Linked DNA regions of Homo sapiens. The protein of the gene in region 1 purifies or fractionates together with the protein of each later gene. This does not show direct contact. Each region holds a gene or a part of one and is shown on either strand. Other genes may lie near its edges. The genes, in order: RTCA and RSAD1.

Region 1 (16,891 bases):
GCAACTGGAGGGGGCAGAAATTGGCTCAACAGAAATAACCTTTACACCAGAGAAGATCAAAGGTGGAATCCACACAGCAGATACCAAGACAGCAGGGTATGTATCACTTAACATTCCATTTAAGTAACCTGGGTTTAAGTCCAGGTTTTGCCACTTTCTGGGCAAGTTGCTTAATGTCTATGAGCTTGTTTCCCTACTTTTATGTTTTTTTTTTTTGAGACAAGGTATCCCTCTTGCCCAGGCGGGGGTGCAGTGGTGCAATCACTGCTCACTGTAAGCTGTAACTCCTGGGCCCAACAGGTCCTCCCACCTCAGCCTCCTGCGTGGCTGGGACCATAGGCACACAGCACCATGCCCCGCTAATTTTTGTATTTTTTAAAGAGACAAGGTTTCGCCATGTTTTTCAGCTGGTCTCGAATTCCTAAGCTCAAGCAATCCACCCACGTTGGCCTCCCAAAGTTTTGGGATTATAAGTGTGAGCCACCACACCTGTCCAATAAATATTCATTGAATTAATGAAATTCATTATTACTGATAGAGACTTCCCAGTTCAATACTTAAGCATCATTGTGTAAGTGAGTTAAATAAAGATCTGTCTTTTGATAGCTAAGAGGCTATGTCGAATTCCCTTTCAAACTACTTATGAATATGATTGCTTTCACTTAACTTTGGAGAAGGGAGATAATGGCTCATTTAGAAAACAACCAGGCCAGGTGCGGTGGCTCACGCCTGTAGTCCCAGCACTTTGGGAGGCCGAGGTGGGTGGATCGCTTGAGCTCACAAATTTGAGACCAGCCTGGGCAACATGGCAAAACCCCGTCATATATATATATTTATATATTTATATATATAAATAAAAATTAGCTGGGCATGGTGGTACATGCCGGTAGTCCCATCTACTTGAGAAGCTGAGGCTTGAGCCTTGGAGGTGGAAGGTGCAGTGAACTGAGATTGTGCCGCTGCACTCCAGCCTGGGTGATGGAAGGAGCCCCTGTCTCAAAAAAAGAAAAGATAATGACCAAGTGTTTCACTTTATGAAATTCATCATGTTACATAACTATTTCTTGTGATTTCTCACATTATTTGACTATAAGGACCAAACAGGCAAGTAAAGCAAGGATTACTTCACTAAAACTTCCCATGTGAAATATTTAGCTATCAGTCTTTTTTTTTTTTTTTTTTGGTCTCCCAGGCTGGAGTGCAGTGGCATGATCATGGCTCACTGTAGCCTTGACCTCTTGGGCTCAGGCGATTCTCCTAAAGTGCTGAGACTACAGGCGTGCACCACAATGCCTGGTTAATTTTTAAATTTTTTGTAAAGATGGAGTCTCACTATGTTGCCCAGATTGGTTTTGAACTCCTGGGCTCGAGTGATCATCCCACCTCTGTCTCCCAAAGTGCTGGGATACAGGCATGAGCCACCACGCCCGGCCAAGCTGTGAGTGTTTGTTATTATTAAAATTAATAATTATTAAAATATTTTATTATACTTTAAGTTCTGGATACATGTGCAGAATGTGCAGGTTTGTCACATATGTACACATGTGCCATAGTGGTTTGCTGCACCCATCAACTGGTCATCTAGGTTTTAAGCCCTGCATGCATTAGGTATTTGTCCTAGTGCTCTCCCTCCCCTTGCCACCTGCCCCCCGACAAGCCCTGGTGTGTGATGTTCCCCTCCCTGTGCCCATGTGTTCTCATTGTTCAACTGCCACTTATGAGTGAGAACATGCAGCGTTTGCTTTTCTGTTCCTATGTTAGTTTACTGAGAATGATGGTTTCCAGCTTCATCCATGTCCCTGCAAAGGACATGAACTCATTCTCTTTTATGGCTGCGTAAAATATTATTCTATCATATCATGAACTCCACAATGACAGGAACTATATCTTTATACCTGGAACAGTACCTTGTTATATAGTAACTAATCATATCCAGACCTTGTCTATTTTGAAAGCATTTTCATAAACTGCTAGTTTCAAGAATTCTTTTGTAAAACTTTTGAAGAAGGTTTTATTTTTAATTTTTTTTCTTTTTTACTTTTTTGTAATATAAAGAAAAGTATCAGAACTTAGCCAAGGTCACACAGCTAATGTGTTTAGTTGAAGATTCAGACCCAGGTTTGGTTATCATTTAAAGCTATTTTTCTATGGTGAAATACTGTTTTTCTTTAAAATTCAGGATTTTACTATTCAGACACTAAAATGTTTTTTAACTAGAAACTCAATGGCATATACCTGCCTTCACAGTTGTCTGTGCTTTAGTTGGTAGTGATGAACAAGAATATAGCTTATTTAAGAGTTTGAAAAGAAAATGCAGAAAAGAAAATGAAAATAAGCCCCTTCTGCCTTCTCCTTAGGAGTGTGTGCCTCTTGATGCAGGTCTCAATGCCGTGTGTTCTCTTTGCTGCTTCTCCATCAGAACTTCATTTGAAAGGTGGAACTAATGCTGAAATGGCACCACAGATCGATTATACAGTGATGGTAAGGGCTTTTGTTGTTGACAAACTAAGATGATCTCATACATGCTTCTGAGTCTCCATTCTCTAAATATATCCTGAGTGTTTTTTTGTGACTTTCTTGTTTATCTCTTCATGGTGTCTTTTCTTTCTTTCTTTCTTTTTTTTTTTGAGACAGTGCTGTTGCCAAGGCTGGAGTACAGTTGCATATCACAGCTCACTGCATACTCAACCTCCTGAGCTCAAGCAATCCTCCTGTCTTGGCCTCCTGAGTAGCTGGGACTACAGGCACACACCCAGCCAATTTTTTTAAATTTTTTGTAGAGTCGATGCCTCACTATGTTGCCTAGGCTGGTCTTGAACTCCTGAGCTCTAAGGATCCTCCCACCTCAGCCTCCCAAATGTGTCTATTGCAGTAGGGGGTGGGGAATTATGTTTACTTTAAGTTTGTTGTTATATCTTGGAATAGTGTTTATAGTGAATTAAAAAAAAAAACTCAAGTGTAGGGCCCGGTGTGGTGGCTCACACCTGTAATCCTAGCACTCTGGGAGGCTGAGGTAGGCAGATCACTTGAGCTTAGAAGTTCAAGACCAGCCTGGGCAACATGGTGAAATCCCATCTCTACAAAAAAATAATATAAATAAAAAACAAAAAACACTACACACAGAAAAATTAGCCAGGCATGGTGGTGCACACCTGTCCAAGCTACTCAGGAGGCTGAGGTGGGAGGATCACTTGAGCCTGGGAGGTTGAGTTTGCAGTGAGCTATGTTGGCACTCCATCCTGGGTGATAAAGCAAGATGCTGTCTTTAAAAAAACAAAAAACACCTCGAGTGTGATATAAATTATATCAGTTGTGATGTGTTATTTTATAAATACAAGGATTATGATTTGGAGGGAAACTCAAACTTTTTTTTTCTATTAAGCCCCTTCCATTCTAGGATCAAACATTTAAAAAATGATTTAAAAAATACTGGCATGCTCATATAACTAGTGGGAGAGAAAAGTGGTATAATCTTTTTTCTTCTAGATTTATTAAAGTGTAATTTTTTCAATTGAATCCACCCTTTTTAACATGCAGTTCTGTGATTTTTGACAGTGACATGATTCACAGTTATGAACCATCTACCACAATCAAGACATAGAATAGTTCCGTTACTCTAAAAAATTCCCTTATACGTTTTTGTAATCAGTCCTGAGCCTCAGCCCCTGGCAACTGCTGATCTGTTTTCTGTCATAGTTTTGCCTTTTGTTCAGAATGTCATATAAGGGATAATACTGTACGTAGGCTTTGAGTCTGGGTTTTTTGCTCTCCATAATACATTTGAGATTCATCCATGTTGCTTGTATCTGCAATGAAAACTTGAGTTGTGTTCTCGTATATGGATGTACCAGTTTGCATATCCATTCATCTATTGAAGGGCATTTGGGTGTTTCCAGATTTTGGCAATTATAAATTAAGTTACTGTTAACATTCATATACAAGTTTTTGTGTGATTGTACATTTTCATTTCTCTTGGGAAAATACTTGCTGGGTTGTTATAATAAGCAAATGTCTAACTTTATAATACATAGCCAGGTTATTTTAGCTTCCAAAGTGGCTACATTTTGCATTATTACCAGTACTATATGAGAGTTCCAGCTGAAGTGGGCACAGTGGTGTGTGCCTATAGTCCCAGCTATTTAATACTTGGTAGGGTGAGGTGGGAGGATCTCTTGAGCTTAAGCTGGAGTCTAGCCTGGGTAACATAGCGAGACCCCATCTCTAAAATAAAAATAAATATCAAATAGAGGGTTCCAGCTGTTCTGTATCCATCCTAGCACTTGATATTTTCAGGTTTTTATTTGTTAAGCTTTTTCTGCCTTTAAAAAAAAACACAAAACAAGGTTAATAACCTGTATACCTCCTGGATACATAGGAGACAACCCAGAGAAATAAGTAAATCTCTAGAGTAGATCTCAAAGAGTTGCCTTAGACATCAGGCTTAAACACCATCTTTCTCTGAAATATTGCCATTCTAATAGATGGTATAATCTTTTCAAAGTCAGTTCGATGGGATGTATAATAAAAATTAATCTCTCCTCACCTAATAATTTGACTTCAAGGAAACTCCTCTAATTCAATATTGCAAAGTTCAGCTAAAGATAAATGTTAAAGGTATTTGAACAGAGCATTATATACTGTAATTATCATTATATAAGATATATCATTATCTAATAATGAAAACTTGGAGAACCGTTAAGTCAATTAGGCTAGGATGCCATGGAGTCATTCAGATTTTGTTTAGGAATAATTTTATGATGTCAGGAAAATGCTTATGTTTATAATGTTAAAGCATTGTCTGTGGAATGAGATTTCAACTGTACAAAAAATTGAGATGACAGAATGGAATGCTCTTCACCAATACCCCCTCATTTCTTAAATGTACTATATTGAGATGCGTGAGGAAGTATTGGCCTTCGGAGTAGAATAACCACTGATATCAAATATCCTAAGTTCCAATTTTTTTCGTTAGATAGACTTGCACAGCTCTGATTAAATAAATGTCAAACTTTTAAATTTAGCTACATATCAGTTTTTTTATTTGAAAAAAATGGAACCAGCCTACATATTCTTATAACACTGTTTACCTATAGCACCCAGTTACTAGCCAGCAAAGCGCTTTTGTTTAATAAATACACTTGTTAAATTAGTGAATATTGCTGATTAACCTAATGATAAAAACTGATTTTTTCAGGTCTTCAAGCCAATTGTTGAAAAATTTGGTTTCATATTTAATTGTGACATTAAAACAAGGTAAGTTGCTTGTTTCTTAAATGTTAGGATCTATTACTTACGCTAGAAGTAGTGGAAAAGTTAGACCCTTAGAGAACTGTCTTTCTGGTACCCACTTAATACATTGCATCTCTTGTAAGAAGTAATTGTACTTTGTGGCTTAAAAATAATGAATAGCAGGAGCATGGGGACTCGAGAGCAGCTACACATCATGGTTATTTATTTCTAGGGAAAATATTTTCAAGGGAATTTTCACAGTGAGGTACCCTCATATCTAGTGATATTTCATGCCCCAGCACAGCTTAAGTGCTCACTGTGTGTAGACAACTGGACTAGACACTAAGGGGTCATAAAAGGAATTCTCTTCCACAATGTGATCAGAATTGTTTTCCTAAGAAACACATTGGGCATTCAGGTTATTTCTCTTTAAGGCTTCCCTTCTGCCACACAATCACTAGGCCATATTTCTTGGTGTGGCATTTAAGTGCTTTGAAGTCTTGCCCTAACTTTTCTAACTTCTTCGTCCCTCTCCTCCTTTCAACGTGTTATGTATTCTAACAATATGTTTGCTTGTTATTCCTTAAATATGCTTTGTGCCTTTGGACTTTTGTGTCTTTGTTCATGTTATTCTTCCCCTGCTCTCCCAAAAGTTAGAAATCCTATGTTTTTTTCAACGTGAAACTTATAATTCTTTATGAACTGTGATTGTGCCTCAATCAGAATTCATATTTGCACCTATGTTGTAGCCTTTCTTATAGCCTGACCTGTATTCTAGTAGACAGTGTGTGGAGCCATCTCCCTACCAGATGGTGAGCTCTTTGAGGGGAGGAGTACTGTCTTCTCACCGTCTGCTGTAAAATAAATGACACCAATTAATTGAATTAAAACTTTTTAAGTGTTTTGCTACTTAAATATTCATCATATATTTATTTGAGGACCTACCATGTGCCAGACATTGTTTTAGGCACAGGAAAATAGCAGGAACAATATAGGTAAGTCTAGCCCTCAAGGCGCTTATATTCTACAATAGCCCTGTCAAATAGAACTTTCTGCATTGGGGTATATGTTCCATATCTATGCTGTCCAATATGGTAGTCACTAGCCAAATGTGACTATTGAGCACTTAAAATGTGGCTAGTGCAGCTGGGGAGCTGATTTTTAAATTTTATTTAATTTTAATAGTTTCACATATCTCAAGGCTACCACATTGTATAGTACAGACAAAATTTTGTTTTTTAATGTATAAAATTTTACAAAATACAGACCTAAAATATTTAGACCTTTCCATGGATTACATGTTTGGATATCATTGACATGTCATTTTATTGTAATATAGAGCTTTGTTTTTGTCATGCAATCAGTTTATGTGGGCATTTGTTATACTTTTCATAGGGGATATTACCCAAAAGGGGGTGGTGAAGTGATTGTTCGAATGTCACCAGTTAAACAATTGAACCCTATAAATTTAACTGAGCGTGGCTGTGTGACTAAGATATATGGAAGAGCTTTCGTTGCTGGTGTTTTGCCATTTAAAGTAAGTTGTTTAGATGTTCTTAGAAATAAAATATATGTGTGTCTTGATAAATATTATGTCAACTAAATTTTGAAATTATTGAGAGAACTTAACATTTTTTTAAGGAAAGAAATAATGTCCTTTGTGGCAATATGGCTGCAGCTGGAGGCCATTATCCTAAGCAAATTAATGTGGGAACAGAAAACCAAATACCACATGTTCTCATAAGTGGAAGCTACGCATTGAATACACATGGACATAAAGATGGGAACACTGGGGACTGCTAATGGGAGGAGGGTGGAAGGGGGCTGAGGGTTGAAACACTATCAGGTACTGTGTTCACTACCTAGGTGATGGGATCATTCATATACCAGATCTCAGCGACATGTAATTTACCCATGTAACAAACCTGCACATGTACCTCCTGAACCTAAAATAAAAGATGAAATATATGTATTAATGGATACATTAATTAACAAAAATAAAATTAATTTGCATAAGCATATTTAAAAATTCAGTGCTCTCTTGAAAATCAAGTTATTAAATAATGCATGTAAAAGCTACCAATTATTTTATGTGTCTTTGAAGTCTTGAAAACAATTTTCCAAATAATCAGTAATTGTTTTATTCTATTTTTCTGTCTTGCTAAAATAGGTAGCAAAAGATATGGCAGCGGCAGCAGTTAGATGCATCAGAAAGGAGATCCGGGATTTGTATGTTAACATCCAGCCTGTTCAAGAACCTAAAGACCAAGCATTTGGCAATGGAAATGGAATAATGTGAGACAATACTTTTTCCTACACATTAGTTGAGAACCCTAAAATAGTTATCTAATTAAATTAAAGATTTTTAGGGTTTCTTGCTTAAGTTTATAGTTTTAAGAAGTATTTATTTATTTATTTATTTATTGAGGTGGAGTCTCGCTCTGTTGTCCAGGCTGGAGTGCCGTGGTGTGATCTTGGCTCACTGCAAGCTCCGCCTCCTGGGTTCATGCCATTCTTCTGCCTGAGCCTCCTGAGTAGCTGGGACTACAGGCGCCCACCACCACGCCCAGCTAATTTTTTGTATTTTTAGTAGAGACAGGGTTTCACCGTGTTAGCCAGGGTGGTCTTGATCTCCTGACCTCATGATCCACCTGCCTTGGCCTCCCAAAGTGCTGGGATTACAGGCATGAGCCACTGTGCCCAGCCTCAGTTTATATTTTTAAGGACATTCCTACCTAAAACACCAGTATGATAAATTAAGACAATTATTCTGAATTTTTTCTGAGGATGGCTTGCCTTTTGTTACCTTGTAAGATCCCTTTCCCTTATATAGTGAACTTAAACGTTTAATCAGAAGTTAGGCTTTAAAGCTAGTCCTATGAGAATATTTCCAGTTGCATAAAATACGTCAAATGTGAAATCAGTTCACAAATAAATATAGCAAAGAGCTTTTTAAAACCAGACTAGAGGCCAGGCGCGGTGGCTTACACCTGTAATCCCAGCACTTTGGGAGGCTGAGGCGGGCAGATCACAAGGTCAAGAGATCAAGATCATCCTGGCCAACATGGTGAAACCCTGTCTCTACTAAAAATACAAAAATTAGCTGGGCGTGGTGGTGCACACCTGTAGTCCCAGCTACTTGGGAGGCTGAGGCAGGAGAATCACTTGAACCTGGGAGGCGGATGTTGCAGTGAGCTGAGATCACACCACTGCACTCCAGCCTGGCGACAAAGCGAGACTCCATCTCAAAAAAAACCAGACTAGAACTATTATGTTAATTCAGTTAGGAGTTATAGATTTAAGTATTAGTACAAATTCTTTAACTGATGTTTTTGAAGTATAAAAGTACCATTTTTGGATATTTAAGTTCCAAATCCTCTCATTCAGAATTTCCATTAAAAGGTTTAAAGTAAACGCTTGCTCTACTTATGATAACACTATCTAAAAACCGTAGAACAATACCAAAGTCTCTGCATAACGACCTTTTTATTTAAGATAATTCTGAAACACTTTATAGTACTGTGTGCCTGTGAAATGGTACCACTTAGTGCTAATGACATGTTAACTTGTTGGGGGGCATGGTAGACATTTCTTAACCTGTGAATTAGAATCTGGTGTGACTTCTCCTGGTCAAGTGGTAAAGGATACTACTGGTCTGATTAAGATAGACAATGTTAATCATACCACTCTATATGAAGAATTTTTACTTTTGCAATTTGTTGCCCAGATTTAGTTCTGCCTATTTAATAGTCATTGTTCTCTTTTGTTGTATTTGCATAAATTTGGAACATTTATAGCAAAGGTAGTAATAACTTTTTTTCTTGCATAGAATTATTGCTGAGACCTCCACTGGCTGTTTGTTTGCTGGATCATCGCTTGGTAAACGAGGTAAGATAAATGAAGGGGGTCCATAGTTCCCAATGCTACTGCAGAATTCTTTAATCCATCAGGATTGGAATGTTATAGAATGATGGATGAAAGTTTAAAAGGATGTAGTTAATTGATTCTCTTTTAGAGTCAATTACACTTTCAGACTTTCAGTCTTTCTCCCACCTTTATACTTTGGAAAATTTCAAACCTATGGAAAAGTTGAATGACTAGTTCAACTAGTCATCCATACAACCTTCTCTTAGATTCACTAGTTATGAACATTTAGTTTGTTGTGTATATTTCTGAGCCATTTCAATATAAGTTGCAGGTGCCATGTCTCACCCCTGAATACTGCAGCATATATGTCCAAAGAGCAATAACTACATAATTATAATACCATTTTTACACCTGAAGAATTTGTTTTATTCTGACACACCAGATAGCTTCATACATAATGAATTGTTTCCAAAATATTATTTAGAGCGATGTGGAATTTTTTTTTTTGGGGGGGGGCACATAGCATTTGTTTCTCAAGTCTCTTTAGTCCCTCTTTTAATACACAATCCTCCCATTACCTTTTTTGTTGTTGTTCATTTCATGATACTGACATTTTTAAGAGTCCAGGCCATTTTCTCACAGAGTTTCCCACAATTTAAATTTGTCTGATTGTCTCATGATATATTCAGATTAAACATTTTTATTAAGAATACTACATAGGTGATTTTGTGTACATTCCACTGTATCACGGCAGGGGGCACATGATGTTAGTTTCTCCTTTATTGGTGAGGTTGAGTGTGATCACTTGGTTAAGGAGGTGTGTCCTGCAGATCTGTCTGCCATGAAAGTTCCTTTTACCTTTGTAATTAACTAGTGATCCAAGAAAATATTTTGAGGCCATCTGGTTATCCTGCACCCATAACAGCTTTCATCCAGTGGTTTTAACATCTATTGATGATTCTTCTCTGCATCAGTTATTACATTGGTGATTTCAGAATTTTGAATGTTTTTGTGAAAGGGAAATTTGTTTAAGGTTTGGTATATTAGAGAGAGAAGATACATACATGCATGTGTTTGTTAATATTTAAAGTTACTTTTACCAATCAGGCAACTTTTAGGTGAACTTCTAGTTGTTTGCGTGGTCATTGATTGCTTTATTCCTACTTTGTAGCATCTTTAAAAATGCTTACCAAGCTGGGCACAGTGGTACACAACTGTAATCCTAGCACTTTGGGAGGCTGAGGTGGGAGGATTACTGAGACCAGAAGTTCAAGACTATCCTGGGCAATGTAGTGAGACTTTGTCTTTGCAAAATAAATAAACAAATAAAAATGTTTACCCTAGCTATGCTGTTAAGCCACACTATTACTACTGAATACAAAAAAAATTAGGAATTCTTCAGTTTGCTCAGTTGGTAAATCTAGAACTAGTTGGGCATCAAATCTGATCAAGAGAATAAATAAAATCACCATTTCCAGTTGAACTCACATAAATGAATTCTGTCTAAAACTGTGCTATTCAAAATGTGGTTGGCAGACAGGCAAACTTGTCAGCATCAACTGGGAGTTCGTTAGAAATACAGATTTTGGGACCTACCTCAGACGTATTGAATTAGAATCTGTGGGAGTGGGGCCCAGGAATCCATTTTAACAAACTTTCCAGGTACTTTTAATGTATACTGAAGTTTGAGAAATAGTGATCTAAAATATGTATTTGGCATATACTAATTACATATTAGGTGCAGTGAGGAATCAGTGTGGATATTGAGCCACTGCATGCACTATCTACAACAGTCTTTAGAAGCAAAGAGAATACAAATATAAAACGGAGACTAGGAGCAGACATATTACAAGTAATAAGTACTTAGCAGGCATTGGGAGAAGTGTGAGTTTGTTTGTATTACTGGTTACCAAATGTGCCAGGTACTGTGTACTAGGGATTCAAAAGTGACAGCTATGATTCCTGCCTCCTGGGTTATTCTGGCAGAGGAAACAGACCAGTTCTATGATAGTGGTATCCCCAGGGTACCATAGGAATACAGGGGAAGCAAAGGGAATCCTTCTGGGGACTGATTGACACCAAATCTGCCTTCTGCCATTTAATGGTCCTCCAGTGGGTTCTGTGGGTAAATAGAAGTTAGCTGGATAGAAAAGTGAGAGCTAAGGAGGAAGGACAAAGAAATTTGACATACAAAAGTATTCTGGGTGAGGTGGCATGCAGCTTTAGTCCAAGCTACTCGGGAGGCTGAAGCAGGATGATTGCTTGAGCCAGGAGTTTGACAACAGCCTGGCCAACATGGCAAGATTCCATCTCTTAAAATTTTTTTTTTTTTAAGTAGCCCCATATGGTGGCTCACACCTATAGTCCCAGCTGCTCAGGAGGCTGAAGCGGGAGGATTGCTTGATCCTAAGATGTTCAAGGCTGCAATGAGCTATGATTGCACCACTGCATTCCAGTCTGGGTGACACAGTGAGACCCTGTCACCAAAAAAATAGTGTTCTGTGTTTGAGCAAGCAACTGCAAGTGGATAATAGATCTGGGTAAGGGAATGGAGAGAGATGACAACAGAAATATCGACAGGCCAGATTCTGAAAGGCTATAGGTTATATCTAGGAATTTACATTTCATCCTGAAATATAGAGCATTTAATGAGGGATGTGATATGAGAGTTTTTGAAAGATAATTCAGAGAAGTAGAAGAAAGCCATATTAGAGGCAGGAAGATAAGAGTTCATTACAATTCAGGTCAGAATGGTAAGGGCCTGTGCCAAGGAATGCTGGGCTAGAGAGGTGAATACTGATAAAAGGGTATTTGCAAAGGTGAATGGACAATATTTGCTGGCCAGTTGGGTATGGGAAGTGAGGAAGGCAGTGTAAAGTATGACCTTCTAGATGTCTGGCTTAGGTAACTGGATATATTTACCTCTTGTGAATATACGGGGTAGAGTTAGTTTGCCAGGGTAGATGATAATTTTAGATATGCTGCGTTGAGATTGATTGTAAAGGGATCATTACTTTATCAGTAATACATGGAATTTTTTTACCAGGCCTGAAAAAAATTTTCTAATGTTCTGTCAGCATTTTTTTCTCACTTTGTCACATGAAGCAACTTGTACTTTAAAGTAGTTTTTGGATAAAACACTTGTAGAGTACACAGTACTTATTTTTAGACTTAGGGTGTTAGGAGAGAATAGAGGAGAGAGCAACATGCCTGCTGAGATTGACTGACTCCTCCTGGTATCCTTCCTTGGTTCCTATCATGCACATCAGTCAAATGAGATGTTAGCAAATGCAAAAGTAACTTGTGGTCTTCTCAATCCAGCTTGTCTATATATTAAGGATCTCAGAGAGAATGTCATGACCTCTATTATCCAGATCCCCTTTCATTTCTGATTTAAATTAACTAGAAAATTACTGGATTTAGGGGCTGGGTGTGGTGGCGTATGCCTGTAATCCCAGCACTTTGGGAGGCCAAGGTGAGCAGATCACTTGAACCCAAGTGTTCAAGACCAATCTGGGCAACATGGCGAAACCCTGTCTCTACAAAAAATACAAAAATTACTTGAGCATGGTGGCATGTGCTTGTAGTCCCAGCTACTCTAAATGCTGAGGCAGGAGGCGGGAGGATCACTTGAGCCCAGGAGGTGTAGGTTGCAGTGAGCTGAGATCACACCACTGCACTCCAGCCTAGGTGATAGAGCAAGACCCTGTCTCAAAAAAATAAAACAAAACTACCAGACCTTGAATCCTAATTTCTTAGGGTTATCACCAGAAGGAACATTGGCTGCTTGTCAATACCACCATAGGTGGTAGAGGCAGGAAGTTGTAACTAGAGATGTCTTTATCATTGTCTCAGTTACTATAACCATTTTGATCTTAGTTTCCTTATATGTTGAGCAAGAAGATTAGCCTGGAGAATCTCCAAAATCCTTCTAACTATAACATTCTTCAATTTTATTTTAAAACGGTGAGATTTTGTTTTGTCTGAGAAAATCTCGCTGTTTTAGACTGAGGCAGTGTGTTATGATAGAGAGCACTAAACAGAGAGTGAGAAGACCTAAATTTTAGTCCCATGTCCTGTCATTATCATGCATAGTGACTCTGGGCTTTCCTTATCTGAAAAATGATATTGGACCGTGATTGTGATCTATGTTTAAGGATCCCTTCCAACTTTAAGTGATTGCATTATAGACAGAATGTGTTTTGTCTTTCCATTGTTGCGTATCTGTGTGATCTTTCATTACTCTTATCTTACAGTTAGTTATATTCTTTACTATGGGAGCAAAATAATCTGCTGAAATGAATTGTGCCTCTGGTTAATCAATCTTTATTTCCTTTGTATAGTAATTGCCTCACTTATAGCAAGCACCTTCCTTCCCTCCCTCAGTGTATGTGGTAATTCAGGGCATCTCTCTGTTTTTGTTTTTGTTTTTTTTTTTCGAGACGGAATCTTGCTTTGTCGCCCAGGCTAGAGTGCAATGGAGCAATCTCGGCTCACTGCAACCTCCGCCTCCTGTGTTCAAGCAATCCTCCCACCGCAGCCTCCCAAGTAGCTGGGATTACAAGTGTGTGCCACCATGCCGGCTAATTTTTGTATTTTTGGTAGAGACGGGGTTTCACAGTGTTGGCCAGGCTGGTTTCGAACTCCTGACCTCAAGTAATCTGCCTCCCAAAGTGCTGGGATTACAGGCGTGAGCCACCGTGCCGGCCTCATGGCATCTCTCTGATGTCCTAAAACAAGTCCTTGAGACCTTTGTTTAAAAACATCCAAAATGTGAGAAGATTGGCAATTAGTTAGAAAAGCATTAAGATTTCAGAAGAAATTGAGATTTTGCTTTTGGTGTGTATAATACTAATAAGCAAGATTCTCATATTTTGCTTATTATGTTCAGTTGCTACAGACTGCTAGTAATGGCAGTTAGTAATGTAGAACCATTCATGCCATTACTATCAAGGTGGCTGGGTGGAAAGGAATGTGAATGGCTCTGAGGAATTCTTTGCTACATGGCAGAAAACTTTAGTGTACCTGCTGTTTTCTAGTACTACAAAGCCGGAAGTTCTTTCCTTTTCCTTTACATCCTCCATCCCTATTTTAGCTGTTTTTCAAGGACTCACTTAAGTCCTTCATGCTTTATGAAACCTCAAATTATTCTAGAACCTATATAATCTCTTACTTTTCTGAACTCCTGTCGGGTATATAGTTTATATCACAGAGTTAGCACTTAATTATCCTCTAATTTTCTAATATATGTGTATTTTAAATGCCTCCTTAGCAAAGGATCTGGTTTCTATTACTTAGCATGGTAGATAAATAGTGGGTATGCAATACTCCTACAGGTTGAGCATTCCTAATCCAAAAATCTAAAATCTGAAATATTCCAAAATCAGAAGCTTTTCAAGTGGCAGTATGCCACAAAACTTTGTTTTATGCACAAAATCATTTAAAACATTGTATAAGGTTGCCTTCAAGCTATGTGTGTAAGGTATGTATGAACATTAATGAATTTCAGGTTTGTTTATTTATTTATTGAGATGGGAGTCTTACTCTCTTGCCCAGTCTAGAGTGGAGTGGTGCAATCTTGGCTTACTGCAACCTCTGCCTCCTGAGCTCTAGAGAGCTTCCCACCACAGACTCCCGAGTAGCTGGAATTATTAGTGTGCGCCACCATGCCTGGCTATTTTAGTAGAGACAGAGTTTCACCATGTTGGCCAGGCTAGTCTTGAACTCCTGTACTCAAGCTATCTGCCTGCCTCCACCTCCCAAAATGCTGGGATTACAGGCGTGAGCCACTGTGCTTAGCTGAATTTCATGTGTAGACTTGGGTCGCATCCCCAAGCTATCTCATTATGTATATCCAAATATTCCTTTTTTTTTTTTTTTTTTTTTTTAATTTTGAGACAGAATCTCATGTGTCACCCAGGCTGGAGTGCAGTGGCACGATCTCAGCTCACCATAACCTCCGCCTCCCGAGTTCAAGAGATTGTTGTCCCTCAGCCTCCTGAGTAGCTAAAACTACAATCGCACACAACCATGCCTGGCTAATTTTTGTATTTTTAGTATTTCACCATGTTGGCCAGTCTGGTCTCGAATTCCTCATCTCAAGTGATCTGCCCGCCTTGGCCTCCCAAAGTGCTGGGATTATAGGCATGAGCCACCATGCCTGGCTCAAATATTCCAAAATTTTTTAAAAATCCAAAATCTGAAACCTTCTAGTCCCAAGCATTTCAGATAAGGGTTACTCAACCTGTGTTATTATTAATAGCTTTTTATGTACTAGTCTGGGTAATAGATGCTTTATAAATATTATCTCTAATTTCTATAACAACTTTGCAGCATAATTATTATCATCTCCATCTTCTAGAAGAGGAAATGGCAGTGGCTAACAAGAAGTCAAGATTCACAAAACATGTTTCAAACCATTTCATTCAGTCACGTAAATACTTGGCCAATTGATAATATAAAGAGGGTAATTTATTATATTATTATGACTACTATAAAGAAAAATAGAGTTTCTGGGCATGATGGCTCATGCCTGGAATTCTAACACTTTGGGAGGCTGAAGCGGGAGGATCACTTGAGTTCAGGAGTTTGAGACCAGTCCAGGCAACGTAGTGAGACCTAGTCGCTAAAAAAAAAAAAGAAAAAAAAAAAAAAGAAAAAACAAGAAAAAACAAGAAAAACAAAGAAAAATAGAGTTAAAATTCTACAATTTCCACTTTGGGGAAAATTTTATCATATATAATCAAGTAAATTTGCAAATATAAAATAGAAACAAAACTAACCACATTTTCATTTTTCATAAGACGTTTTCATTTGCAGCCAAGAATTTTTTAGTTGAGAGTAAATACCTTAAAATAATAATGTGGCATTCTACTACTTGTGACAGACTTACTTTGTATTCAGTGTTGTACCAAAGATTTGGAATATGTATGGAGAGATAGGGAATAGGGCAAGAGGGTAAATATTCTGACTTATATTTAAAATAAGCGAATACCTGTTCAAATCTTAGAGGAAATAAAACTCTAAAATATTTTATCTGATAATGTTATATGCTCTTTTTTTACATAAAATGTAATTTCCTGACTTTAAAAAAATTCTTTAATTTTTTTTTTTTTTTTGGCAGAGTCCTGCTCTGTCACCCAGGATGGAGTACAGTGGCACAATCTCAGCTCACTGCAACCTCCACCTCCCAGGTTCAAGTGATTCTCTTGCCTCAGCCTCCTGAGCAGCTGGGATTACAGGCATGCACCACCATGCCCAGCTAAATTTTGTATTTTTAGTAGAGATGGGGTTTTGCCATTTTGGCCAGGCTGGCCTCAAACTCCTGACCTCAAGTGATCCATCCGCCTCAGCCTCCCAAAGCATTGGGATTACAGGCGTGAGCCACCGCACTGAGCCAAATTCTTTAATTCTGATGGAATTACCTGCAGACTAATTGTAACACGCATGCTTTTCTAGGATTTGGGAGGGGAATTTGTTTGTTTGGTAGATGGCGTCTAGCTATGTTGCCCAGGCCAGCCTTGAATTCCTGGCCTCAAGCAATTCTTACACCTTAGCTTCTCAAAGTCCTGGGATTACAGGCATGAGCCACCATGCCTGGCTGCAAGTTTTAATTTTTGAAATTGAGGCATAGCATTATAGGGTCATAACTTAACTTATAAACTGGCTTTATAAATTAGTACATTTTAAATAGGACTAATGAAGCCTATATTTTCCTCCACTAGTATATTTAAAGGTATAAGACTTGTGTATCCCAAACACTCAGAATATTAAATAACTAAAGATCTTATTCTAA
Region 2 (14,870 bases), on another chromosome or scaffold:
GAGAGTCAAATGGCTCACTCAGGATGCCTAGAGCCCCCCAGCAGCAGGGGTGTGCTAGGCCTGGCCCGGAGTGTTCTCTGTGGGCTAAGCATGAAAGGGGAAGAGCTGGAACAGTGGCTGTGAGCGGCTGCCAGCTGAACTTCTCCGCGGCCTCCCTTCCTGTCTGAGGTGTGTTTTTGCCAAGCCCACTGTCTGTTTCAGGGCAGCCAGGGTAGCCTCAAAGAGGAGCCAGAGCACAGAGAGTTTTCCTACACAGCTTCTTTTCCTCCAGTGGTGCTCGCCTCTCGCTTTAGCAGAGTTCTTCTTCTTGCTTGGCGTAAACACTTCATTTCCCAAGCAGCCTATCCCTTTGGGGCGGTCCCTTTGCCCCTCAAAGGTTGCCCCAGAGTGCACCTGAATCTCAAATGCCCAGCCATGCCTCCTTTCCTGCTCCAACACTGGGGCTGTGCCAGCTGGCTCCTGATTTCCCCTGCACCCTTCTGCTCCCGCCCCTGGGGGATCGCTGCCCCCGTGCACAAGCAGCTGCTTCCCCTGGGGCTGACCGCTGTCCTGGCGTGAATCTGCCCTGCCCTCCCGCCAGAGCAACCATGTACCCAGGGATTGAGTAGGGATGTGAGCCTCCTCCCGTGTGTGCTACAGCTGCACTGCCACTGTCACTAAGATGCCCACCTGGAAGGGAAACAGGGGCAGGCATCACTCACCCCATTTCACGGACACAGACACTGAGGCACACAGAGGCTCAGCTTTCCTTGGCACGGTGGCCGTGGCTCTTTTCTCTACCAGGCTTTCAGACTCTGTCTCTCCTGTTCACATGGTGTTGCCATGCCACCCTGTTTGGCTTATTTGCTGCTTAATGGGAAGTAAGAGGAGACTCCCTTCTCCTCTGCACGGTTTATAATTCTTCAGCTGGCTCTGCAGTCCACAAACCTCTTTCTTTGCAGCAGCTGCCTGCCCACTCTGTTTCCTCAGCCCTCCCAGCCTGGGACTCAGCTCTTCTTTCATGCCCAGCTCAGGTCTCTCACTGGCTTTGGGTCGACTCTAGCCTTTGTCTCCCTTCTCTGGATGGGGATAAGCAGAGCCAGGGGGCCTCATTCCAGGCAGTTGGGTTGGGGGGTTGGGGGCAGGCAAAGCTCTCTCCATTTCCAAGGACCACCTATCCTGAAGCAAGAGGATAGGAAGCCCCAACCTGAGGCCATCCTGTCCCAGGCCCGGATCATGAACATGGAGGCAGGGACGCTGGCAAAGCTGAACACGCCCGGGGAGCTGTGCATCCGAGGGTACTGCGTCATGCTGGGCTACTGGGGTGAGCCTCAGAAGACAGAGGAAGCAGTGGATCAGGACAAGTGGTATTGGACAGGGTGAGAAGGCAGGGCGGGGTGGAGGCTCTGGCCGCTGAGGGGAGGCTGGAGGTCTTGAGGCTGAGCCGGGAACATTAACCTGGCACCGTGAGGATGTGGGTATCAAGATGACCCCTCACATGCTGGAGTCTTAATTTCCAAAATGTATACGGTGGGGATGATCATACATAGCACAGAAGAAAGCAACTGGGTCATCACCCTACACCAGCAGCTGCAAAATCTGAGTCCAGATTCAGTCACTCATTTGTTAGCTCAGCAAATTCTTACTAGAATTCCTTATGTGCTAGCACCGTTCTCGCCGCTAGAGGTCCAGAGGAAAGTAAGATGAGAAGGATCCTGCTTTTTGGAGGAAGACAGATGATGCCCAACATCGATAAATAACACCAAGAAAATAGGCCAGGCGCGGTGACTCACACCTGTAATCTCAGCAGTTTGGGAGGCCGAGGCGGGTGGATCACCTGAAGTCAGAAGTTTGAGACCAGCCTGGCCAACACAGTGAAACCCCACCTCTACTAAAAATACAAAAATTAGCCGGACGTGGTGGCGGCACGTGCCTGTAGTCCCAGCTACTCGGAGGCTGAGGCAGGAGAATCGCTGTAACCCAGGAGATGGAGGTTGCAGTGAACCGAGATCGCGCCACTGCACTCAAGACTGGGCGACAGAGCAGGACTCCATCTCAAAAACAAACAAGCAAATGAACAAACAAAAAACACTAAGAAAATGAAATAGGGTTATAGGAGAGAAAGTGGCTGTGGTGGGGAGGGGAGCTTCCCTTAGATTGAGTGGACAGAGAAGATGTCTGGAGACATTTGAGCTGAGACCTGGAAAGAAGCCAGTCGTGAAAAGCTATGTATAGATGTGTTGAGAGAGACAGAATATGTTATAGGTATTGTTTTGTTTTTGTCTACCTCCCCTCCCCTTACTGGACTATTAATTCCAGAGACTGTGTCTTGTTCCTGCTATGTCTCCCAGAGTCTAGAGCAGTGGAAGACACATAGTAGCTGGTCAATAAATGTTTCACGACTGAGCAAGCAAGTGAGTGAACAAGGCAGAGATGACAGGTTGCCCCTGGGCTTTCCTTACAGAGATGTCGCCACAATGAATGAGCAGGGCTTCTGCAAGATCGTGGGCCGCTCTAAGGATATGATCATCCGGGGTGGTGAGAACATCTACCCCGCAGAGCTCGAGGACTTCTTTCACACACACCCGAAGGTGCAGGAAGTGCAGGTGAGGCACTTGGCTCAGGTGAGCCCCCAGAAACAAGAAACACACATGAACACGGTGATGTCTGATATTTTTCTTTGGCCCTGGAAGGTGGTGGGAGTGAAGGACGATCGGATGGGGGAAGAGATTTGTGCCTGCATTCGGCTGAAGGACGGGGAGGAGACCACGGTGGAGGAGATAAAAGCTTTCTGCAAAGGGAAGGTGGGAGCCTCCGCTCAACCTAGCTGATGCTGCTCTGTTCTTTGCTCACCCACTCCTCTGCCAACCAGCCCAGGGTGGGGATTGCTCTGCCCTTGACGAAGCTGACTCCTGGCCAGGCCAGCCCCTGGTCCCCTACCCATACCCCTGTGAGCTTGCGCAGCCTCACGCCTTACCTCCCTCCCTCTGGTCTGCAGATCTCTCACTTCAAGATTCCGAAGTACATCGTGTTTGTCACAAACTACCCCCTCACCATTTCAGGAAAGGTGTGTAAGGTGGAGGAGGCTGGGGAGGGCAGCCTGGGCTCTGGGGCCCCATAGGGCCCCACCTCTGTTTCCTTCAGCAATGGGTGTGGAGAGACTGGCAGTAGGGTGACCGGGTCACCTAATCCTGGTTTGCCTGGGGACTTTCCCTGTTTTGGCACTAAGAGCCTGAGAAACCCCTTATTCTTGGGTGAACCAAGACAGCTGGTAACCCTAACTCCATTTTCTTTCCTCTAGATCCAGAAATTCAAACTTCGAGAGCAGATGGAACGACATCTAAATCTGTGAATAAAGCAGCAGGCCTGTCCTGGCCGGTTGGCTTGACTCTCTCCTGTCAGAATGCAACCTGGCTTTATGCACCTAGATGTCCCCAGCACCCAGTTCTGAGCCAGGCACATCAAATGTCAAGGAATTGACTGAACGAACTAAGAGCTCCTGGATGGGTCCGGGAACTCGCCTGGGCACAAGGTGCCAAAAGGCAGGCAGCCTGCCCAGGCCCTCCCTCCTGTCCATCCCCCACATTCCCCTGTCTGTCCTTGTGATTTGGCATAAAGAGCTTCTGTTTTCTTTGGCTTCTTGCTGGTGGGCTCTCTTGGCAGCTACTACAGGATGGAGAAGGGAAGACACTGAGGGGAACTAGCACTTTCAGACGTCCTATTCCTTGTCATTGAGAGTGCAGAGCACCTTGATGTGGATTATCTACTTAATTTAACCCTCACCCTTGGTATCCCTTTGAGATACCAACCCATTTTTGTTGTTGTTCTTGTTTTTTGAGACAGAGTCTTGCCCTGTCACCCAGGCTGGAGTGTAGTCATGCGATCTCAGCTCACTGCAACCTCTGCCTCCCTAATTCAAGTGATTCTCCTTCCTCACCCTCCCAAGTAACTGGGATTGCAGATACCCACCACCACACCCAACTAACTTTTGTATTTTTAGTAGAGGCGAGGTTTTACCATGTTGGCCAGGCTGGTCCTCAAACTCCTGACCTCAAGCAATCCGCCTGCCTCAGCCTACCAAAGTGCTGGGATTACAGGCATGAACCACTGCGCCTGGCCCCAATTTTTTATTTTTAAGCTACTCTAATTTAATTCTTTTTCACATTGTTGCCAGATTAGTCTAGCAAGAAGTATTCTTTTTATATATGTATAACAGCTTGATTGAGATGTAATTCACATACTCTCCAGTTCACTCCCACCTCCCCCATTTTCTAGAGACAGGATCTCATTCCGTCACCCGTGCTGGAGTGCAGTGACTCACTGTAGCGACATGATCATAGCTCACTGCAGCCTCGAACTCCTGGGCTCAAGCAGTCCTCCCACCTCAGCCTCCTGAGTAGCTGGGACTGTAGGAATGTGCCACCATGTCTTAACTAATTTTTAAACATAGACACAGGATCTTGCTATGTTGCCTAGGCTGGTCTAGAACTCATGGGCTCAAGCAATCCTCCTGCCTCAGTCTCTCAAAGTGCTGGGACAATCTACCATTTAAAGTATAGAATTCAGTGGTCTTTAGTATATTCACAAATATGTGTAACTATCACCACAGTCAATTTTAAATATTGTCATCACCTAAGAAAGAAACCCCATACTCTTTAACTATTATCTCCCATCTCCCAGCCCCCTTCCTCCCCAACCAACCTCATTTTTAGTTTTTATTTGTTTTGATTGGTGAACCTGGGGCATCCCTCGTAGGCAGGGCCAGATAAAGCAGGTTGTACCTTGACCCAAGAAATAAAAACAGCTGGGTTCCAAAAGGCACATAGATTCCCAGTTCACAGGAATGGAAACTTGCCTCCTGCCTGCCCCCTTACCTCCCAGCGCGCCTGCCCCCTTACCTCCCAGCGCGCCTGCCCCCTTACCTCCCAGCGCGCCTGCCCCCTTACCTCGCAGCGCGCCTGCCCCCTTACCTCGCAGCGCTCCTGCCCCCTTACCTCCCAGCGCGCCTGCCCCCTTACCTCGCAGCGCGCCTGCCCCCTTACCTCGCAGCGCGCCTGCCCCCTTACCTCCCAGCGCGCCTGCCCCCTTACCTCGCAGCGCGCCTGCCCCCTTACCTCCCAGCGCGCCTGCCCCCTTACCTCGCAGCGCGCCTGCCCCCTTACCTCGCAGCGTGCCTGCCCCCTTACCTCCCAGCGTGCCTGCCCAAGGCAGCAGCAGCCTCCTCTTGACTTTTTAAGAAATGAACATAGGTTTAAGGTATTTTCAGTACCAGGCTCTGTGCTAGGTACTTTCACATTATTTTCTCTCCAAATCTTCCCAACAATCCTTTCAAGTAGCCATTGGTCCCACTTCACCAATGACCCAACAGAAACTCAGGGAGGTTCCGTATCTTGCTCAAGGTCACACAGCTGGATCAGAACCCAGCTGTCTGTTAGGCAGGTTCACTGCACACTAGTTACCAACTTGTCAGAGTCCAGTGAGGCAAACACCCACAAGTTACATAACGCTGAGTCCAGCGAGGCAAACACAAGTGACATGCAACGTGTTTATTACCTATAGGTAGGCACTAAGGGACAACAGAAGGCTGGGATTCATTTGGAGCTGGACCCCTACGGCTCAGGAAAGCTGCTGAGGCAGCTGGGGGATGGACCGTTGTCTGTGCATGCCTGACTTTTTTTTTTGTTGTTGGTTTGTTGTGAGATGGAGTCTCGCTCTTTCACCCGGGCTGGAGTGCAGTGGTGTGAACCCTGGGATTCAAGCAATTTTCCTGCCTCAGCCTCCCTGGTAGCTGGGATTACAGGCGTGCACTACCACGTCCAGCTATTTTTTTTTTTTTTAGTAGAAACAGTTTCGCCATGTTGGCCAGGCTGGTCTTGAACTTCTGACCTCAGGTGATCCACCCGCCTCGGCCTCCCAAAGTGTTGTGATAACAGGCATGGGCCACCACGCCCAGCCAGCCAGACTTGTACTGAAGCTGAGGGACCCCAGAAACCAGCCCGCCCTGTTTTTCGTTTGTTTGTTTGTTTGTTTGATACAGAGTCTCACTCTGTCTCCCAGGCTGGAGTGCAGTGTCGCCATCTGGGCTCACTGCAACTTCCGCCTCCCAGGTTCAAGCAATTCTCCTGCCTCAGCCTCCCGGGTAGCTGGGACTACTGGCACGCACCACCACACCTGGCTAGTTTTTTGTATTTTTAGTAAAAACGGGGTTTCACCGTGTTAGCCAGGATGGTCTCAATCTCCTGACCTTATGATCCGCCCGCATCGGCCTCCCAAAGTGCTGGGATTACAGGAGTAAGCCACCGCGCCCGGCTTCTGCCCTGGGCTTTATACCCTGGGGCCATGTGACATGTTGGGCTGAAGTGTTGAAGGACATGCTTTTTCTAGGGGGACTGGAACAGAGCATGGCTGTGCTGGCCAGTCCTTCCTTCCCTCAGGATGTTGCATTCTCTGCACACTCTACAGTTTTATTTATTTATTTATTGAGACAGTCTTGCTCCATCACCCAGGCTGGAGTGCAGTGGCACTGTCTCAGCTCACTGCAACCTCCGCCTCCCAGGTTCGAGGGATTCTCCCTGCTCAGCCTCCCGTGTAGCTGGGATTACAGGTGCCCACCACCACGCTTGGATAATTTTTGTATTTTTGGTAAAGACGGGGTTTCAGCATGTTGGCTAGGCTGGTCTTGAACTTCTGATCTCAAGTGATCTGCCCGCCTCGGCCTCCCAAAGTGCTGGGATTACAGGCGTCTACAGTTATTCTTGAGAACTACAAGCAAGAAAGGAGGGGAGAACCAGGTCAGTTCAAGGCCACTGGGAGAACTGTCCTGCACCGCCTGCCTCTGAAGCCCATGATGTTTCTGCTTTGTGGGACAGTTGTTCAGGTGCCTGCTTCCCCAGGCCTTCCCCTGCGCCTTCCCCCTCTCTCCTACACACACCATCTGACTGTCCTTCCAGCACGTACACCTCCAGATGCTTGGGTTGGCCTGACCCAAAACAGTCTACTCTCCCGGCCAAGCCAATTGCCCCTGGGATTTTCTGCTCCTCCAAGATCCCGTGCATAGCCCTGGTGGTGGCTCATGCCCTTAATCCTTAGTTACTCTAGATGCTGAGGCAGGAGGATCGCTTGAGGCCGAGGAGTTCAAGACCTCCCCTCTCCCAAATATTTGTAAATGAAATTAAAAGAAAGATCCAGCCCAAGTGTCTCTTCTGCCCTACTGACTCCCACACTCTTAAAACAGATGACCTCACAGCACTGAGGCGGACGGCTCTGGTGTCCAGCAGGCACGGAATTAATACGCCTTGCCTGTCCTGGCCGGTTGGCTTGCCTCTCTCCTGCCAGAATGCAACCTGGCTTTATGCACCTAGATGTCCCCAGCGCCCAGTTCTGAGCCAGGCACATCAAATGTCAAGGAATTGACTGAACAAACTAAGAGCTCCTGGATGGGTCCGGGAACTCGCCCGGGCACAAGGTGCCAAAAGGCAAGCAGCCCGCCTCGCGGCCTGGGGAAAGAACCGACAGGAGGCCGCAGTGAGCGCCCGGGCGCCCGGCAGGTGGCGCCGCAGCCCCGGGCCCGGGCCCTCTTGTCGCGCGGTCACGCAGCCCCTCTTCCTTCCGCCGGCTGCGCACTCACAGTGATCCCTGCGCGCGTCTCCTGCTCGGGTCAGTGCGCCGCGCTGCGCTGGGCGCCATGGCGCTCCCCGGAGCCCGGGCTCGCGGCTGGGCGGCAGCAGCCAGAGCGGCCCAGAGGCGCCGCCGCGTGGAGAACGCAGGAGGGTCCCCGAGTCCTGAGCCTGCGGGCCGGCGCGCGGCGCTTTACGTACACGTGAGTAGGGGCGGGGGCGGAGCCCACGGTGTGTGGCCGCAGCCCTGGCCGTGACCGTGGCCGTCCAAAACCCAGGTGGCGGTTTGTCACTCTATGAACCCGCCTGCCGTGTTTCCGTGCCCCCGTACGAGGTCTGGGATGGGACCCTGTGCTTTGGCAGGGAAATGACTTGGTCCAGAAACCTGAAGTCTCTGCTACTCACCGGCTCGGTGACTCTGACCAAATGGTTCAAATTTCATAACAATTTTCCTCTTAGCAAGACAAAATTTTCTTAAGAGCAGTGTTCTGACTCGGTAGCTGGGAAAATGGCTCATAGGAAAATTGTATGAAAATTATATGATCCCAGAAAGAGCTTGGGTTGAATTCCTTCCTGACGTCTGCTGGTTGGAAGAGGCAGCGTAACAAAGGAGTGAGCCTCAGTTTTCTCACATTGAAGTGGATGTAATAACCCCAGTGCGACCTGCCTTGGGGAGTTGTGTGGCTTAGATGTCCTAGCTACTGTGGAAAGACCTCGGGATAGGGGTGGGGGTGGGGTTGGGGGTGTGTGCGACTGAACCCTGGAAGTGGCCAGGGCAGCTCTCACCGCGCACGTGCACTCACTGCCCCCAGTGGCCTTACTGCGAGAAGCGCTGCAGTTACTGCAACTTCAACAAGTACATCCCTCGCCGCCTGGAGGAGGCTGCCATGCAGAAGTGTCTGGTGACCGAAGCTCAGACGCTGCTGCGGCTCAGCGGGGTGCAACGGTGGGTAGTGGGGGCTGTAGGCAGCGTTTTGGGAAATATTTGGAGGAGTGGTGGGGGATAGGTGCAGGCATCCCAGAGGGCTCCCCCAGGTCTCATTTCTCCATTCTCTTTCCCCAGGGTGGAGTCTGTGTTCTTTGGTGGGGGGACCCCCAGTCTAGCCAGTCCCCACACGGTGGCTGCTGTCCTGGAGGCTGTGGCACAGGCAGCCCACCTGCCTGCAGACTTGGAAGTCACATTGGAGGCTAATCCTACTTCAGCTCCGGGCTCCAGACTGGCAGAGTTCGGGGCAGCAGGGGTTAACAGGTTGTCTATAGGCCTCCAGGTAACCCATGGCACTCACCCCATCCCAGTGCACCCCGCCCTTCAGTGCCATCTCCTCTTTGGTCACATTCATTCATTGGGCAAACATTGATTGAGCACCTTCTGGGTGCCAGGGACACAGTAGGGCCTAGTGCGACACTTTTATAACTCCTTAATTGTCTGCTGCTGTCATAGACCACAGACTTTATGAGAAAGGGATCAGGTGTGGCTTTTCTATTTCAAACACTTACCATAGTGCCTGGCACATAGTAGGTGGTCAAAAAAGATTTGCTACATGACACGGGAGACGCAGACATGTAGCCAGATTATTGCAGCATGGTAAATGTCACCTGTAAAGGGGGTCTCTATAAAAGGCTTCTAGAGTACAGCCTGAAGGGAGGTCACTCTGATGAAATCACTGAAACTTCTCTGGAGGAGATGTTTGAATGAAGAGGAAGAGTTCACCAGGTGAGGGGGTGTGGGGGAAACGACACAGGCCATGGAAGAGCCTGGCATGTTTTGGGGGAGTTGTGAGTCATTCCTTGTGATTGGAGAGGCTGGAAACAAGGTTGCAAGGTAGAGTCCAAAACCTTTGGTGCCTACTAAGGAGTGTGGGTTTTGTCCTAGTAATGATAGGGAGCCATTGAAGGTTTTTAAGTAGGGAGAAACCTAGTCGTCTCAGGTTGACCTCCGATATTTCCGTAGGACTTCCGGGTTGTGGGCTTTGTTCTGATGGAATATGCTGACAGAAACACATCACTTCTAAGATATTCTTACCCCAAAGCGCATATCTTGAATCTAATTGTCAGGAAACCCTGAATTAAGAGATTTTTACAAAATTATTGTGGTAAGAACAGACAGCATGAGATCTACCGTCTTAACAAGTTTTTAAATGTACATACAGCACTGTTAACTATAAGCACAGTGTTATACAGCCAATCTGTAGAAATTATTCATTTTAAATAATTCATTTAAATAATTATAATTCGTAAATAATAATAATTTATTTAAATTCATTAAATTATTCATTTTAAACAACTGGCCTGTATTCTTCAAAAATGCCAGTGTCATGAGAGACAAAGAAAGGCTGAGAATCTAAAGGAGACAGAAGAGACAGCTGAATACAATGTGTGGCCCCTGACTGGGGAGGAAGGAGGAAATTACTACAGTAGATGTTATTGGGACCATTAGCCAAATTTGAATATGACAATGTATTATGTAATGGTGTTGTGTCAGTGTTGCATTTCCTGAACTCTGTAATTGGATTGCAGTTATGTAAGAGAATGTCCTTGTTCTTTAGGAAATACACACCTAAGTATTTAGAGGTTAGGGAGTATAATATCTATAACTGCTATTCAATATAGTGGCCACTAGCCACAGACTAGTGAGCATTTGAAATGTGGTAAGTTAAGTTTAATTCACTTAAATTTAAATAACCACATGTGGCTACTACCTATCATATTGGACAGTACAGATATGAACATTTCCACCATTGTAGAAAGTTCTTTTGGACAGTGCTGGTTTATAATTTACTGTTAAATGATTCAGCATAATAACAGGTATGTATGTTTAAAGAGAAACAAATATGGACAAATGGTGAATCAAGATGAAGGTTTTTTTTGTGATTTTCTTTCAACTTTTCTATAGGTTAGAATTATTTAAAATTGAAAAGTAAAGTAAATAAAGACTTGATTTTGGAGTCAGACAGTCCTAAATTCCAGGTCGAACTTTGCAACTGTATGGCCTGGACAAGTTACTTAACACCTCTGAACCTCAGTTTTCTCATCTGTAAAATAGAACTAATATTGGAGGGTTACAAAGATTAAATTAGACACTACATAAAGGTGCTTGGCACATAGCGACCCTTCTGTGAATGGCAGCTCTTGGTGCCAGCTTGACCTTCCCCCTCCTGCCTTCCAGCTGCCTGCCACGTGCTGCGTTCTCCCTGTATCTGTGTCTACAATGGGGAGGAGGGTTCTTGTCTCTCTCTGAGCTGCTGGTATGCTTACACCCACCCTCTTTTCCCAGTCCCTAGATGACACTGAGCTCCGGCTGTTGGGACGGACGCACTCGGCCTGCGATGCTCTGCGGACGCTGGCAGAGGCCCGGCGCCTCTTTCCCGGGCGCGTGTCTGTAGACTTGATGCTGGGGCTGCCGGCACAGCAGGTGGGGCCGTGGCTTGGGCAGCTGCAGGAACTGCTGCACCACTGTGATGACCACCTCTCCCTCTACCAGCTGTCCCTGGAGCGGGGCACCGCACTCTTCGCCCAGGTGCAGCGGGGTGCCCTTCCAGCCCCTGACCCGGAGCTCGCAGCTGAGATGTACCAGAGGGGCCGGGCTGTCCTTCGGGAGGCTGGCTTCCACCAGTATGAGGTCTCCAACTTTGCCCGGAATGTAAGTTCTGGGGCTGATGGCTGGAGGTGGAGGATGGGCAGACTGCAGTGTGACCAGGGCGTTGTGACCTTCTGAAGAGAAGGATCCTGGCCGAGATGGTGGGACATTCTAACCTGGGGCCCCTTACCTGAGTCTAAAAATGAGGCCTGCCCTCTTCACTCTGCACTATTTCCTCCCTCCCCGCAGGGGGCGCTCAGTACCCACAATTGGACTTACTGGCAGTGTGGTCAGTACCTTGGCGTTGGGCCTGGTGAGTCCCGTGAACTACAGAAAGGGTGACTCAGGAGAGGAATGTCGTGGCTGTGTGAACTTGGGCCACATTAACCTCTCCAAGCCTCTATTTTCTCATATGTAAAATGTGGCAAAAAATAATACCTCCCTATAGAACTGTTGAGCATGAATTATAAGGGGCTTAATGTTGCACCTTGCACTAGGGTTCTCAGCCTTTAGTGTGTATGAGAATCTCCTGGAGGGCTTGTTAAAACCCAAGCTGCTGGGCCCCACCCTCAGAATTCCCAATTGGACAGGGCTAGAGGAGAGCCCAAGAATTTATATGTCTTGGCATTTTGGGATAGATGATTAAAAAAAAAAGAAAAAGAAAAAAGGGCCTGGTGTCATGTGCCTCTAATCTGAGCTACTTGGGAAGCTGAGGTGGAAAGATCGTTTGACCCCAGGCGTCCAAGACCAGCCTGGGCAGTATAGTGAGACACCACCTCAAAAAAAAAAAAAAAAAAAAGAAAGAAAGAAAGAAAGAAAAGAAAAGAAAAATAATTTATATTTCCAGTATGTTAGAGGCAGTTGCTCCAGGGACCACATGATTTAAATCTGGTAAACACATAGTATTAACAGCCATTAATGTGGGGATGGTTGTTGATGTTGTCAGGGGCCCATGGACGATTTATGCCCCAGGGGGCTGGAGGCCACACCCGGGAGGCTCGGATCCAGACACTGGAGCCTGACAACTGGATGAAGGAGGTGATGCTGTTTGGCCATGGCACCCGGAAGCGTGTCCCCCTGGGCAGGCTGGAGCTGTGAGCATCCAAGGGCACAGGGCTCTCCTCCAGGATCCCCACACCCCAAGACCATGTCTATTTGTATATCTTTTATTTCCTGTCTTGTCCTGGCCCCTGCCTTGCCACATACTGTATGGTCCCTGTTAGCCTCCTCTAAATGCATCCCAGTGTAGAATTTGGAGAATGGGAGGAGCACAGGCCTCCTCTCTAAGACTCCTTGGTGATTTTTCTTTGAGGCTGGAGGAAGTTTTGGCCCTGGGGCTACGCACCGATGTGGGGATCACTCACCAGGTAAGGAGTTAGGATTCTTGCACACCACTCCCTCCTAAAGTCTTGCAGAATCAATGCCCCCTCCCTGCCACCCCCCCCACACACATATACCTCCAATTTCTGTGAGATTGGCAGCTAGAAGTGGGGCCCAGGTCCAGCTGAGGCCTGATGGGCAGAAGCAGTGAGCAGTGGTGCATAGCTAAGAACCCTAGACCAGGGCTGCAGAGACCCAAGTTCCAGCCCTCATTTTACTGCAACCTTGGACACAAATCCTTTCACCTCTCTTAACCTCAATTTTCTGAGCTCTGTGAAGCAATAGATAGATAAAGGGTTTCCACTTGTTTTTAGGGAGCACTGAAACCTCTCATAGGAAGCACAGTAGATAATTATCAAGCAAATCCAGAGCTGCTCTGGATAAAGCAGAGCCATAAAGCCCTGGCTAGAGCTGGCTGAGAGGGGAGGGAAGAGAGGAGGCATAGAGGAAGGCCTGGCTTGGCTGGAAGCTGGGTTCCAGTCTCAGTGGAATAGGAGTGAAGCTGCCCTCCTCCCTGCTGGCCCATTGGCCTGGTTCTGCTTTCATGCATGTCAGCTGCTGAGATCTCCATGCTGAACTGGACCCTCCCCCACCTCTCACCATACCCCAACTATGTGGCCCAGAGTAGCCAGGCCAGCTCCCCACCTCTGACCCTCTGGCTTCCCCAGCACTGGCAGCAGTTTGAGCCCCAGCTGACCCTGTGGGATGTGTTTGGAGCGAACAAGGAGGTGCAGGAGCTGCTGGAGCGGGGCCTACTGCAGCTGGATCACAGGTGTGTTGGGGGGTGCCGGGCAGAGGGGGCTGAGGCATACCAGGGAGCCCTGACTACAGCTCTCCACAGACCCAGGAGAAGTGAGAAAGACTGACTGGTAAGGCGGGACCTGCGGGTGCTGGGAGCTCGGCCCTGCTGGGTGATGGGCTTGAAATTGGTAAGATGAAGTAGTCACCTTCAGGCCTCTTGGTTTTCCAGGGGTCTTCGGTGTTCCTGGGAGGGTCTGGCTGTGCTGGACTCTCTCTTGCTGACCCTCCTGCCTCAGCTCCAAGAAGCCTGGCAGCAGAGAACCCCCTCCCCTGTGCCAGGAGGATGACAAAAATGTTCCTGTGTTCCAGGGTAATGCCAGGTGGGTTTTGAGAGCTGGGTCGGTACTGCAGACATCTCTTCTCCGTTGTCGGGTGCCGTCTCTGCTCCTTGTGGTTATTGCTCAGCCCTGGCATCCCCAGGGGAATGGCAGCAGTGAGGTAGATGGGAGGACATTTCTGGTCAGGGAACTGGCATCCCATTCAGCATCTCAGGACTCACAGGCCAACATGTGTTCCATGGCTGGGAATTGCCTACCACCCACATCAGCTTCTGTTTACCTTTTTGGCATCAAATAATGAACAGTGTTTGGAAATCTTTCTACAGGCAATTACCTCCCCAAGAGAAGCCTTCCTTATTTTGGAGTAAGGTCCTAAGATAGCTGGATGAATCAGGAAAACCATGTCCCCTCTAGGTATTATTAATATAAGCAGGAAGGGATCTACTATAGGAATGAAGTATTTATAAACCACTGAAAGGGATAGAGAAGTGAACATTGGAGAAAGCCAGTAGCAACTGTGAGAAATCAGCAACTTGCAGGAGGCACAGAAAACTCCTGCTGATGGTCTCAGCTTCCAGCAGCACAAAAGCAGATGATGTACTGGAAAATGCTCAGAAGATGCTACAAAACCTCATGCCTACTGTCTGCCACTGCTGGAGAAGGAATCATGGTTTCTAGAAGTGCCTCTCATTAGTGGACTTTAAAGCAAATCCTGGCTGGCAGGAAATTCTGAGGAATATAGCTCTTAGGCTTCCAGCCTCTACCATGCAGGAGAGAACACAGAAGGACTGATGTATGTTGGTGGATCCATGTATGTGTCCAGCACAGCGGCCTGCTGGACTCTGAGAACTGGGAAAGATCAGAGCAAGCCTTGCCTCTTATCTTCGGGAAACCAGAATATGTTTGGGGTGGTAGGAGCCACACAGACTCTTCTGAGCCCCCTCACTCACTTCCTTCCCCCTGTGCCTTTCCTTTGAGAGTGAAGGTGGGTGGAGTTGACCAGAGAAAGGGGAGAGAATTCGGGAAAGACCCAAAGTGTTTGTAATTCTTCTTTGTCCTTTTACCTACAGAAATGGTCACATGGTTCTATTTAAATAGCCTAATAAACACATCTGGAGCCTGTCTTGACTGTGGTCCTCTCCTTTGAGCTCCTTCCTAGAGCGTGGAATCCTGATTTTGGGACTAGAACCTTAGCCTAGGGCTGAGATTCCTTCCCCCGCTCCCTACATTTTATTTTGA

The links.
Region 2: the proteins of RTCA (region 1) and RSAD1 purify together in Homo sapiens (co-immunoprecipitation; 2 studies listed by BioGRID and IntAct, with this or other methods). This does not show direct contact.

Annotation. Positions count from the first base shown.
Region 1 is NC_000001.11:100,268,200-100,285,090, forward strand, and holds part of RTCA (RNA 3'-terminal phosphate cyclase), read left to right. Parts: coding exon 1-96; intron 97-2,357; coding exon 2,358-2,481; intron 2,482-5,194; coding exon 5,195-5,253; intron 5,254-6,624; coding exon 6,625-6,766; intron 6,767-7,399; coding exon 7,400-7,524; intron 7,525-9,058; coding exon 9,059-9,117; intron 9,118-13,041; exon of another isoform or gene 13,042-13,109; intron 13,110-16,891.
Region 2 is NC_000017.11:50,471,222-50,486,091, forward strand, and holds RSAD1 (radical S-adenosyl methionine domain-containing protein 1, mitochondrial precursor), read left to right. Parts: upstream 1-7,638; 5' UTR 7,639-7,663; coding exon 7,664-7,798; intron 7,799-8,407; coding exon 8,408-8,541; intron 8,542-8,658; coding exon 8,659-8,863; intron 8,864-10,869; coding exon 10,870-11,235; intron 11,236-11,421; coding exon 11,422-11,485; intron 11,486-12,118; coding exon 12,119-12,266; intron 12,267-12,484; coding exon 12,485-12,539; intron 12,540-13,220; coding exon 13,221-13,324; exon of another isoform or gene 13,325-13,421; intron 13,422-13,522; coding exon 13,523-13,640; 3' UTR 13,641-14,753; downstream 14,754-14,870. Other genes in the region: ACSF2 (medium-chain acyl-CoA ligase ACSF2, mitochondrial), read left to right, coding at 1,207-1,358, 2,444-2,585, 2,673-2,783, 2,978-3,046, 3,281-3,331.